Linked DNA regions of Homo sapiens. The protein of the gene in region 1 interacts with the protein of each later gene in a pairwise test. Each region holds a gene or a part of one and is shown on either strand. Other genes may lie near its edges.

What was found.
Region 2: the proteins of MXI1 (region 1) and ENTPD5 interact in binary tests that used the Homo sapiens proteins (3 or more experiments, as listed by UniProt).

The regions. Positions count from the first base shown.
Region 1 is NC_000010.11:110,279,678-110,288,237, forward strand, and holds the end of MXI1 (max-interacting protein 1), read left to right. Parts: intron 1-236; coding exon 237-408; intron 409-5,146; coding exon 5,147-5,310; 3' UTR 5,311-7,688; downstream 7,689-8,560. UniProt on the Homo sapiens protein: Transcriptional repressor. MXI1 binds with MAX to form a sequence-specific DNA-binding protein complex which recognizes the core sequence 5'-CAC[GA]TG-3'. MXI1 thus antagonizes MYC transcriptional activity by competing for MAX.
Region 2 is NC_000014.9:73,962,730-73,967,288, forward strand, and holds the end of ENTPD5 (nucleoside diphosphate phosphatase ENTPD5 isoform 1 precursor), read right to left. Parts: intron 4,286-4,559; coding exon 4,199-4,285; 3' UTR 501-4,198; downstream 1-500. Other genes in the region: COQ6 (ubiquinone biosynthesis monooxygenase COQ6, mitochondrial), read left to right, coding at 241-270. UniProt on the Homo sapiens protein: Hydrolyzes nucleoside diphosphates with a preference for GDP, IDP and UDP compared to ADP and CDP. In the lumen of the endoplasmic reticulum, hydrolyzes UDP that acts as an end-product feedback inhibitor of the UDP-Glc:glycoprotein glucosyltransferases.

The sequences.
Region 1 (8,560 bases):
GTTCAAGTAACATAGCATTCATTACATACACACAAAAGTAAAGACAAAACTATTTTTTATTTTTAAAAATATGTATTTATATGCATTCTCATTTTGGAGGCTTTAAAATGTATTTATATATTTTTATACACACTCACACATGTATATTCATTCATGTTTTCTCTGCTAAAGGAGGAATCAGTTTTATTGTTTGTACTGGACTATACACAAATGTAAAAATCATTTCATCATTTCAGAAACTTGAAGAAGCTGAAAGAAAAAGCCAGCACCAGCTCGAGAATTTGGAACGAGAACAGAGATTTTTAAAGTGGCGACTGGAACAGCTGCAGGGTCCTCAGGAGATGGAACGAATACGAATGGACAGCATTGGATCAACTATTTCTTCAGATCGTTCTGATTCAGAGCGAGGTAGGCAGCTTGCCTCTTCTCTAATGAAATACTAAACATCTCTGTATCTGGATTTAGGGAAGGTATGTTGGGAGGCACTGTATTTGCTTTCTTTCTAGCCAACAGAGTAACATTGTAGGTTTTATGCAATCATAATATTGTCTACAGCAGTGCCAGTGTGGACTATAAAACTTTTTGTTTTTTCCTTGAAAAAAAATATATTTATATATTTATATTATAAATTATATAATGTCCCTCAATTTAGGTTTGTCTGATGTTTTCAAATGATTAGATTGAGGGTATACAGTTGGGGTAAGGAATATCACAGAAATGATGTTGTGCCCGGTGGCTCATGCCTGTAATCCCAGCACTCTGGGAGGCCAAGGCGGGCAGATCACAAGGTCAGGAGATCGAGGCCATCCTGGCTAACATGGTAAAATCCTGTCTCTACTAAAAATACAAAAAATTAGACGGGCGTGGTGGCAGGCGCCTGTAGTCCTAGCTACTCGGGAGGCTGAGGCAGGAGAATGGCGTGAACCCGGGAGGCGGAGCTTGCAGTGAGCCGAGATCATGCCACTGCGCTCCAGCCTGGGCAACAGAGTGAGGTTCCGTCTCAAAAAAAAAAAAAAGAAAAGAAATGATGTTGTGCCTTTCTCAATCCATTGTGTCAGGAAGATACACGATGTCGAAGTTTTTACTACTGGTGATGTGAATTTTTATATGTAGATTTTAAAGTACAACACCCTTTATTTCTCTTTCCATCTATCCTAGAATATTTATCTTTGACAGAGTTAAAGAACAGAAGTCAACCAAAAAAGAATGGTTTGAATTTTACTGATTGTTCTTCCCAAAGCTTCCACCACATCAGGCTTCATATCACATTAAAAGATCCCAGAGGTGAACACTGGTGATTTGAAGTCTTACATTTGGAGAAAGGAGCTCATGAGCTCTTTAGGATTCTAAAACATGAGACAAGTGACAGAGTTTTTTTGTTTGTTTGTTTTTAGGACTCTGATTTTGTTTTTTGTTTTTGACTTTTTTAAGTGGAAATTTTCAAACATACTTAGAATAGAATAATGAACTCCTGTATACCCACCATTCAGTTTGAATAGCTGTCAACTTGTTTCATCTGTTCTTCACTACGCTCACCCTCAATATTTTTTCTGGAATGCTTTAACTCAAATCCCAGATAACATCATTTTGCCCCTAAATACTTTAGTATGTATCTTGAATAAATAGGATTTTTAAAAATGTAATTATAATGCTATTATAATACCCCACAAAATTAATTCAGATAATCTTTTTTAATATCATCTAATACCCAGTCTGTGATACATTTTCTCCAGTTGTCTCAAAAATGGCATTTTACCATTGGTATGTTTAAATCAGGATCCAAAGGCCACATTGCATTTGTTTGATGTGCCTTTTAAGATATTAATCTATAATAATTTTTTCTCTTCCCCCTACACCGTTTTGGTAGAAACAAAAACTGATTTCTACATAACATCTCAAAAAGACTTCTTTGGCAGAGAAAACATGAAGGAATATATAGGTATAGATCTGTGTGTTGTATATATGTACATATTTTTTTAAACATCAAGAGACTGAGTCATTTTTCTTATAGAATTTCCTACATCCTAGATTTGGCTGGTTGAATCCTCATGGTGTCATTTAACATGTTATGTCCTTTATATTGACTGTAAACTGGTTGGTAGATGCAGAATACTTCATAGGTGGTGCTTTGTACTTCCTGTTATGTCAGTATTGTGTGTAGTTGTTGTTGCACTTTTAATATTAATCAATAGGTTCAGGTAAGGTCATTTTAATACATTTATATAAATGTATAGCCTTTAACTTAACAGTTTTAGCAATTATTGCCCTTATTTCATTGGGTGTCATAAAATAGTGATTTTCTAATTGTGTCATTCCTCTTGTATTTATAAACTGTTTTTCTCCTATAAACATTTTCTCATCAACTTTTCGGTTATCCTGAAATAAAGTTCATACAGGGAAGGTGGGATAAATGCTTGGTCTTGGTTTTTGCTTTATCAGTTTTCCAAACAGAGTTGGTAACCTAGCAGCTTCCAGAAGTAACAAGTTTTGGTTTTACTATTTTTTGATTATATCATGAACTCATGTTTTGCTGTACTGAATGTGTTCCAATCCATTGCAGTCATCCTTTTAAATTCTTTTGAATGCTCAAACTGTCCCAGATTTGCTGAGTAGGAGCCTTTTAAATAGTTTTTTCATCCTTTTTAACGCAACCTTTTTAACACAACCCTAGGAGTTCTTGTTTTTCTGTTTTGTTATTTTTCTATGTAAAAGTTTATTTTTGTGTGGCAGTTTTCAAGAAAAGTCTACCAGAGGCAGTAGCAAGAACCTGAAGTACATGCTACATTTATCAGTAACAGTGAAATATAGCAGAAATAACCCTGACCTTGGTGTCCCAGTCTTTCCTCTATTGCTAACTAGCGGAAACCTCTTCTTAGGTCTTTAGGTTTTAGCTGTCCTTCCTGTTACCTCCTCCTTGTACCCACCCCAACTACCTCCAAATTTCAGAGAGGAGGGTGTATTTTCATCACTATAGCTCTCATTTTTTTTTAGTGTTCCCAGTGTACCTTACTTTAGCGGTACCTTACCAAGTACCATCCTTATCCTGAGCTGGCAACCTCCTTTTTGTAGTGTTATGGGGGCTTTTAGTTAACATCTGTGGTACACTTGGCTAAAGCAGTTTCTCATTTTACTTTGTTTTTTTGGGTTTTTAAAAAATTTTTTTAAACATATTTTTAAATTTTATTAAAATAGAGATGGGCCTTGTTGCCCAAGTGGTCTCAAACTCCTGGGCTCAAGCAATCCTCCTGCCTTGGCTTCCCAAAGTGCTGGGATTATAGGTGTGAGCCACTGTGTTGGCCATCATTTTACTTTATTTTGACTGAGTTCAGCATGCTCTTTTGGATAGTGTGCCTTGTTATTATCTTCTAGTTGTAGGTTGGATGAGTGTTCAGTGGTGCTGGGAAACAATGGCTTCTGAAGCAATTCGGATATAGAGCCAATATATGAATTCACAGATTATTTGGACAGCTGCCTACATTTTAAAAACATCTCTAGAATCTCTAAAACTTTTGAAGCAACAAGCCCTTTTGAAAAGTATATTCCTGGAAATAGCTTCACCCTGTCCTTTTGGCCTCACAAGAATCCACTTTTTTTTTTTTTTTGAGAGAGAGTGTCTCGCTCTGTCGCCTAGGCTGGAGTGCAGTGGCGTGATCTTGGCTCACTGCAACCTCTGCCTCCTAAGTTCAAGTGTTTCTGCTGCGTCAGCCTCCCAAGTAGCTGGGACTATAGGCGCGTGCCACCATGCCCAGCTAATTTTTCTATTTTTAGCCTAGACACGGGGTTTCACCATATTGGTCAGGCTGGTCTTGAACTCCTGACCTCGTGATCCACCTGCCTCAGCCTCCCAAAGTGCTTGGCCGCACCCGGCTGAATCCACTTTTTTTTTTTTTTTAAAGCAGTTGTGATTAGTGTGAACCCTTAAAAAGTCAGTGCCAAATGTGAAACATCAGGCTTTGAATTTAAGTAAGGTAACTGAAAAATCCTGGGTTTCACTCTAGCTCTGATGGGAGAAAACAACTTTTTAACTCCTTTTTGTTTTTAACATGTGTATTGATTTATGTATATTATTGATGATTGAATATCTAGTATTTAACAATTAAGATTTTTTTTTTTATTTTTAAGAGACAGGGTCTCACTCTGTCACACAGGCTGAAGTGCAGTGGTGAGACCTTGGCACACTGCAGCCTCAACCTCCTGGGCTCAAGAGTGATCCTCCCACCTTGGCCTCCCGAGTAGCTGGGACTACTGGATCACCCACTATACCCAGCTAATTTTTGTGTTGTTGTGTTTTTTTTGGTAGAAATGAGGTCTCACTTTGTTACCCAGGCTTGTCTCAAACTCCTGCACTCAAGTGATCTTCCTGCCTTAGCCTCCCAAAGTGCTGGGATTACGGACGTGAGCCACTGCGTCCAGCAACATTATCTATTGATAGCTGAGTCAAATATGTATTTGTGGTGTTTTTTTTTTTTAATGTTTGGCTTTTAAGTCTGTATACTACCACCAAAATGGATCTCACTATAATCTGAAGACTTTTAAGTCTCAGGCCCTTATTTCAAGCTATATTTGATGCAAGAAAATTAAATCTAAGACATATACCTCAAACTCTACTTTATAATGACTTGTTTGACTGACTAGTTGAAGATCTTTATGATGAATCCTAGAAGTCTGTTGAACTATCTGTAGAATGGCACCACCAAAGGCTTGGATGGGTAAATTTTCTAGTTTGCCTATATTAAGTTTATGCTCCTGCCCACCCTTTAAGGCAACCCTGATTAATAAACAGAACTGAGAATTAGTTTGTGGTTTAATGCAAAACAGATGTTTTTAAACCACTTGGGGGTTGGGACCTTTTAATATTAAGCACTAATTCCCAAATACGCCAAGTGCTTTAGGGAGGTCCAGACGGACTGGCGTCAAAGGATTTAGGAAATTTGCTGCCTAAATTAAGACCACCACTGTATATCAGACATTCCCCTTGGCAAAAAATATTCCTGTCTCTTCACCTTGTTCCTCTGTTCTCCAGACATCACTGATAATAAGCTTGTTGTGTAACATTTCTTATACCTCTTTTCCTCATGCTGTTAGTTTTTGAAGGTGCGCTATACTCGATAATTAATGTTCTTCTTTTTTTTTTTTCCTTTGGCAGAGGAGATTGAAGTGGATGTTGAAAGCACAGAGTTCTCCCATGGAGAAGTGGACAATATAAGTACCACCAGCATCAGTGACATTGATGACCACAGCAGCCTGCCGAGTATTGGGAGTGACGAGGGTTACTCCAGTGCCAGTGTCAAACTTTCATTCACTTCATAGAACCCAGCATGACATAACAGTGCAGGGCAAAATATTCACTGGGCCAATTCAATACAAACAATCTCTTAAATTGGGTTCATGATGCAGTCTCCTCTTTAAAACAAAACAAAACAAAACAAAACTATACTTGAACAAAAGGGTCAGAGGACCTGTATTTAAGCAAATACTTAGCAAAAAGTGGGGCAGAGCCTCCCAAGGAGAACAAATATTCAGAATATTCATATTGGAAAAATCACAATTTTTAATGGCAGCAGAAAACTTGTGTGAAATTTTCTTGATTTGAGTTGATTGAGAAGAGGACATTGGAGATGCCATCCTCTTTCTCTTTTCTAGTTTGCTCATACTACATTGAGTAGACACATTTAAGGATGGGGTTATGAACCCTTCCTGAGCTTTATGGTCCTAAAAGCAAAATAAAAACTATTCGAATGAAAAGACAAGAAAATCAGGTATTAATCTTGGATAGCTAATAATGAGCTATTAAAACTCAGCCTGGGACAGTTTATCATGAAGCCTGTGGATGATCAATCCTTTATTATTATTTTTTTTTTTTGAAAAAAGCTCATTTCATGCTCTGCAAAAGGAGAGACTCCCATGAAGCCTTTTGAAAGGGATCATCATGCAGCTCAACTTTCTGTTGGATTCCATGCTAAGCAAGCTAACCTTATCCTGCATTGTTAGCACTAGGCACCCAGCTGCCACCTCTCCATCCTGCTGCCCTTAGGCCACATGGGAGCAGTCCATGCATGACAGCCTCTATCCTACAAGGCCTATGAGTATGGATTGGGGGGGCCAAAAGGAAAAAGCTCCATGTGCCTCTTTGTCTGCGTGGGTCAGAAGAGTTGTGCACGCAGATTAGCAGGCCAAGGTCTGAGCCACAGCAGCATTTTTATTTCAGATTTTGATAACTGTTTATATGTGTTGAAAACCAAAATGACATCTTTTTAAAGCTTATCCATAAAAAAAAATAGATGTCTTTTATAGTGGAAAAACACATGGGGAAAAAAATCATCTATTTTGATGCAGCATTTGATAATGATAAAACACCTCACACCTCACTCTTTATAGTGCACAAAATGAATGAGGTCTGGGCTAGGTAGAAAAAGGGTCAATGCTATTTTTGTTTTTAGAATCATTACCTTTTACCAGCTTTTAACCATCTGATATCTATAGTAGACACACTATCATAGTTAACATAGTAAGTTCAGCACTTGTCTCATTTTAATGTAAAGATTTGCTTCCATTTTCCTACAGGCAGTCTCTCTCTTCCTCACAGTCCCACTGTGCAGGTGCTATTGTTACTCTTACGAATATTTTCAGTAATGTTATTTTCTTCTAAGTGAAATTTCTAGCCTGCACTTTGATGTCATGTGTTCCCTTTGTCTTTCAAACTCCAAGGTTCCCTTGTGGCCCTCTCCCTTACCCTGGGAAGGCCTCTTGGAGACCTTACCCCTGGCTGTTTGGACTTTGTATACTTTAAATAATTTAACTACCCTTAATTACTTAAAAAAAAAAAAAAGCTTTATGATTTTCATAACTTATTGCTGATTTTAATGGATTGTTAATTTCAGTCCTGTAGTTTTATTTTATGTTTAGATAGGGCTGGGCAAGGAAAAAGAAAATAAAGACAACCATATTTAGCAGTGCAGTTGAGTTGTGTGTTAATGTTAGACTATCCCTTTGTGAGTGACACTTTAACAGCATTCACTGCTTCTATATATAGTGTACCATCTTGGTCATACATTACGCCTCAACATATACTTGTGCTCTTCCTTTGCCTCCAGAAGAAGTTTTTCCTTGATTGTGCTATGTTTCAGTGGAAGAAATTCTTTGAAGTAGATGTGAGTGAAAAACTGCATGCCTTTAGAAGCCCAGTATCAGAACTTGCTACGTTTCAGGTGCTAGGGACTTAATGAAAAACAGGACAAAACAATTCCTTTTTGTGGCCCAGGTAAATTATTTCTGGTTTCACTTATAATTACTAATGGCTGAGTCAAGATGTTGTCTCTGTGTTTGCTTACTCTTGATCAAGTGTGAGACAGTTTGAAGACTGTGCTACCATACAAAGTGAATGAAGCCAGTGACTAAGCTTCTGTTTGTTTTGTTATTCTCATGGCCTTCGCTTGCATTATTTGGGCCTTCATTCAGATGAACTTGAGGTGCCATTTTGTTGCATATGTACAGGATTATGGGCTGGAAAGCATTTGTTATAAACCTATAGTGCACATTTTAACTGCCCCCTAAATTACCCTTCCCTGGGTTTGTTTTCCTTGGGGTGGTGTAGATTGTATGAGTAAGAAGTATTAATTTTTTAAAAGACAAATCAACTTTGAAGACACAAAAGTTAATTGGAAGAAATAAAAACTGTGAACGAAGAATACCTTTCTTTTTGTACCATCCTTCTTTATGAAGGCAAAAACATGAATGGGTATCCACACCTTAAGAGGTAACTATCTCCTAAATGTCTGTTGATACCAAATCAGTATCAATGCCAAATCAAATGGCAGTTTGAATTATAATTGCCATTCCTGTTCTGCAATTTAAACAGGAGCCTGACTGGTAACTCCATATAACCTAACTGCATGTGGTTTAATGTGCCACATTAATAATAATATTAACTGCCTCAGGTAGGACACAAAGCCATTCTCATGATCTGTTCTCTAAATAACTTTTGGGAGCATCCTTTAGCTACACTATTATTCAAATTGCAAACAAGTCTGGAAGTTCCACTAATCTTATTTAGGGTACCCTATTTATAGAACACCTGAGTGACATTTATATTAAAAGGTACAGGTAGGCCAGGTGCAATGGCTCACACCTGTAATCCCAGCACTTTGGAAGGCAGAGGTGCGCAGATCACTTGAGGTCAGGAGTTTGAAACCACCCTGGCCAACATGATGAAATTCCGTTATCCACTAAAAAAAAAAATACGAAAAATTAGCTGGGCGTGGTGGCATGCACCTGTAGTCCCAGCTACTCAGGAGGCTGAGGCAGGAGAATCTTGAACCTGGGAGGCGGAGGCTGCAGTGAGCTGAGATCGAGCCACTGCACTCCAGCCTGGGCAGCAGAGCGAGACTCCGTCTCAAAAAGGTACAGGTAAAACCTACTGTAGCGCGTTATGACTAGAGGATTCTGAAGTCACTGCAACTCAAGTTTCTGGTTAGAATAGGTATGAGAACTCCTACAGAAATGCCTTTCTAATCTCCCTGACAATGACTGCTTTTAGCATTATGAAGGAATTTTAAGAGGC
Region 2 (4,559 bases), on another chromosome or scaffold:
TTGCTTGAGCCTAGGAGTTTGAGGCTGCAGTGAGCTATGATCACACCACTGCACTCCAGCCCAGTCAACAGAGTGAGACCCTGTCTCTAAAACGTGTGTATATGTATGTATATTTTTCTTTTTTTAGCTGAAATAAAACAAGGACACTTGGGAAGAATACCTACGTGATTATTATCTACAATAATTATTTTCTTCACCTTACTGTGTTAAGAGTTTCATTCACTTTTATTTTTTCTCCAGGAACAGATTATGGCCTTTGCAAGCAAATGAGTACTCCTCTCCTAAAGAAAGATTACGTTGATGAAAAAGAACATCCTGCCCAGGACCCATCATACATATTTTCAAGATCTTATTTAATTTAATAAACTTACTTTACATTAAAATTCTCTTTTTCTTCTTTGCTTAATGGGCCTGTGGCACCCAAATAATGAATGATAATTTGCTGTGAGGAGCGTATATTAGCCAGACCAAAGGAAAAAACTTCGAAGGAAGACTTACAATTTGGTTGAAAAGAGCTTTTTATTACTAAAAAACCCACAAGGTGCTGTCTCACTCATTTCCAGTTAATCATTTCTAAAGAGAAAATTTACATTTTGTTTTTGTTTTAATGTTGGTCATAAATTTATACAGTTGTTTTTTGATAGAGGTAAGAATTAGACTCGATGCATTTTTGTTAGAATTGCTGTTTAAATGTTAACATCAGAATGCAAATTAAATATAAATTGCTTTAACCTTTGTTACAGGTATACTGGACTTTCTGAAAGGAAAACCAGGTCTCATTAATGCTAGTTATTACTTTATCACAGCACCAGATTTCCATTTTATTTATGGTTCCTCTCTGGGACACCACTGTCGGTTTAATAAAACAATAAATAATTCATTGCACAGATCCGAAGACCTCAGGAACCAGATCACAAGGGAAACCGATTAGCAGCAGAATTTGTTCATGTTTGGTGGCAGACTGGTGGCCAACTGGAGGGAGGGGAGTTTTACTGTGGGTTTTTGAAGAGGTCTCGTCACAAGACCAGAGATGCCTCTTGAAGAGATTTTTAGGTTGTAGGTTTGCTTACTCTAAAGAACATCTTGCCCAGAAGTCTGATTTGAGATGAAATGAAGAGAAACAGTCTGCTTTTGAACCAAGTAAGGTATTCTTGGGAATAATTTTTAGAGCCATGAGAAATCTATTCTTACAGGGGTGCTTTTCAGGCAAATGCAGAAAATTTAAAAGAGTCTAGAACAAAAAAGTGACAATGTCACAACCTTGCTGGAATCTCAGGAAAAAGAATTAAAGATGGCAGCTGCTGTGAAAAGCTGTGTGACTCCTGGCGGAGACTGCAGGGACAAGGTCATCTTTCACAAAAAATGGAAAGGTGGCCTAGATGAGGAGGACACAGACTCTCCAGAAGTTATGCAAACAAAATCAGGCAAGATGAAGAATTTTAAGGCACACCTCCATTGGCCCACAGAGAGTGTTCTTCATATGACAATGATGTTAAACACCATCTGTCACGTACCAGGCCATGTCCTAAGTATTTTAAATATGTTAACACATCTACAAAGAGGAAACTATTAGAATCTGTAGGACCTCTTAAGCCCAAAGGGTCTACTGCAGGCAGGATGGGCGTTACAGAAAAAAATAAAAACTCTCATTCCAAATTGCTCCTAAGATGGACAAATTGGTTACTTCTCCAGAAGGTCTAATCAAGGTTAACAAAATAGGTAAGTTCGTGGAGTTAGAATGCATCTTCCCTGGAGTTCAGAGGTATTTGGGATGACCAAAGGAGTCTGCTGGACAGTATGTGTGTTTTACAAAATGGCCCCCACAGTGATTAAAGACCAGAGACTTATATCTCTGCATTTGTCAAGCTGGAACAGTCTTTAGTGAACACAGCTTACCTCTTTTAAAACTGCTGGTTTCTACTGAAGGAAACATGGATGACATTTAGTGTTCTGTGACTGGTCTGGCACCCTACTTTTGTTGACAAAGATGGGAAGGGGTCTAAAAGTCATGTCACTTATAAAAGAACTTGGGAGGAACTTTTTTCAAAAGATCCAAAGATTTTGGAAGGAGAGATTAGAGCAGAACTAAGACCACTTAGAAGATAGGTAGATTTCAGCTCAATATAAGGAATTTTTTTTAATATCAGTGCAGTTCCAAATGGAATAAGCTGTTTGAACATGGCTTAGCAGAAGCTGAATGACAACCTGTTAGAAATTCTAGGGAATTCTGCACTGAGTACAACATTGGATTATTTCTTTGGGCTGTTTCCAACTCAAGATTCTGTTATTTCATTATAAGCATTTTGAGGAAGGCAGTTGGTATAAAGGTGACCTTAGTAATAAAAGTCAGTGTGAAGTCTAAAGAAATTCCACAATGAATTTAAAGACAAGAATTTTAGGGACAAGGATACAGAAATTTGCCTAGTAACTTGCACACAGCAGATGGTAAATATTTATTGACTCAATGGAGTAATGTTAAAAATAAGGTTTCCCATGGACTGTGTGAGGGCCAGGCATACTTAACATCCTTTGTGAGAGAGAGGATGGAAACGGAGTCTACTGTGAAAGCCACAAGTTTTGGGGAAATACACTCCTGCAAAGAAGCTGGAGGTTAACAACCAAGGCAAAGGGGCCAGACCACAGGGAGATCTTCCAGGTCCAAGAGCACTGCAGGGCAGATGAGAAGCAGGGATGATTATGTTGAAAGTGCAAGATAAGGCCAGGCGCGGTGTCTCATGCCTGTAATCCCAGCACTTTGGGAAGCGGGTGGATCAATTGAGATCAGGAGTTGGAAACCAGCCTGGCCAACATGGTGAAACCCCATCTCTACTACAAATACAAAAATTAGCCAGGAATGGTGGTGGGCACCTGTAATCCCAGCTCTTCAGGAGGCTGAGAACAAGAATCGCTTGAACCTGGGGGCGGAGGTTGCAGTGAGCTGAGATTGCGCCACTCCACTCTAGCCTGAGCAACAGAGCAAGACTCCATCTCAAAAAAAAGTGCAAGATAATGAATTTGGGGTAAATAATTCACAGTCAAGAGCTCTGAGCACTTGGATTCAAAAAGAGAGCATGAGGGACATTAAATATGGTTCTCCCTGGAAATGTTGGTCCACTGTACTGATGTGGGCTGAGAGAGCCAACCAAATCCAAGTGGGGTTTTGTCAGGAACGGTATTGGAAACTCTGAACTAGATAAATAATTCAAAGGATATTAGCTAAAGTGATCAGGGACCAGGACAGGAAGGTACTGTTACAAACGGAGAGAATAAAAGGGCAAACTGAAATAATAGATCCTGGAATAGCACAGACACTGACCTCTGACCACAGACCAAAAGTTAGGGCCTAGTTGTATTTCTTAGAAATACAAAGAAAACAAGTTTAGAATCATAGAAAACACTGTTAACACATTAGCCTGGGAGGTGGTACTGGCACTGAATATACACATACCCATAAAGTCGGATATGTTCATTAATCCCAGAGTTGACTGATAAAATGCTGATTAAAGCAAAGGTAGGCTATATGAGGCAGCCACACCCTCCCAAAACATGTCCCCAGAGACCGGGTGGCCTTCTTTCTTAAGGCTGTAATTTATGCACAGTTAGGAGTTACTCTCTCATCCTATTAATATTTAGGATGGCTCTCAGCTGGCTGATTGGAGCTAACACAGAATAGGATCATACAGATTCTGACATGGTCCCATTTTGCGTTGTTGAATTATACATGGAAAGCAAAACCAGGTTTTTTTTTTTCTCTCTTTTTCAGGGGAGGTGGGTGCAGATAAGGGTGGGCAGGGCACTGTATAGGGAGGAAAAAAATACTGATATTGATGGGTCTTGGGATTGCAATAAGTCAGTTTACCATTTAAGAGGAAAATTTAAATATTCAGTGGAATGAGGCACTCAAAGGGTTGAAATGCGATTTTTCTTTGGTTTCCAGGGACCTGTCCCTGGGCTCTCACTCCAAGGTTAAGTTCCAAAACTATACTTTTTGGCTCACAGGGCTCTCTGTGATGCTCTGGTGCCAGCTGTGTACTCTTGAGTGGTTAGGCAGCAGTTCACATTAGATGTGTAAAATTAATTAAACCTAAATCTCTAGGCTCAAGTCCAGGATGTCCCCAGACTAGTTCAGAAACTAAGTGCTCTCTCCTCCCCTTAAAAAGGTGTTGGCAAATGCAGGTCTCCAAGGAAGTACGTGGCCTCAATGGGAGATGCCCAGAGACTGCAACAGGTGAAAGGTGGCCCCCAAGGCCCAGCCCGTCTCTATGTTGTTCACTTTCTTTGTGAGCTGTTGAGAAGAAAAAAAGTCTTCACCTTTTCATCCAGTTTCCAACTCTAGCAAGCACAGCTCTTGGGCAGAAAATATTGGCAAAGAATATCCACATGGGCAAACCAAGGCAAAACGGACAGAAGCCAGTCTTTGCAGGCTTCCCACTACTCTGTAACAATTTCCTTCCGGCCATGGCCCATTGGCCATTGCCCCTACACCCACCATTCTCATATCTGAACTGAATGCTTCTGGCCCAGGTTGTGGCCCATCAGGCCTTCTAGAGAGATAGTTT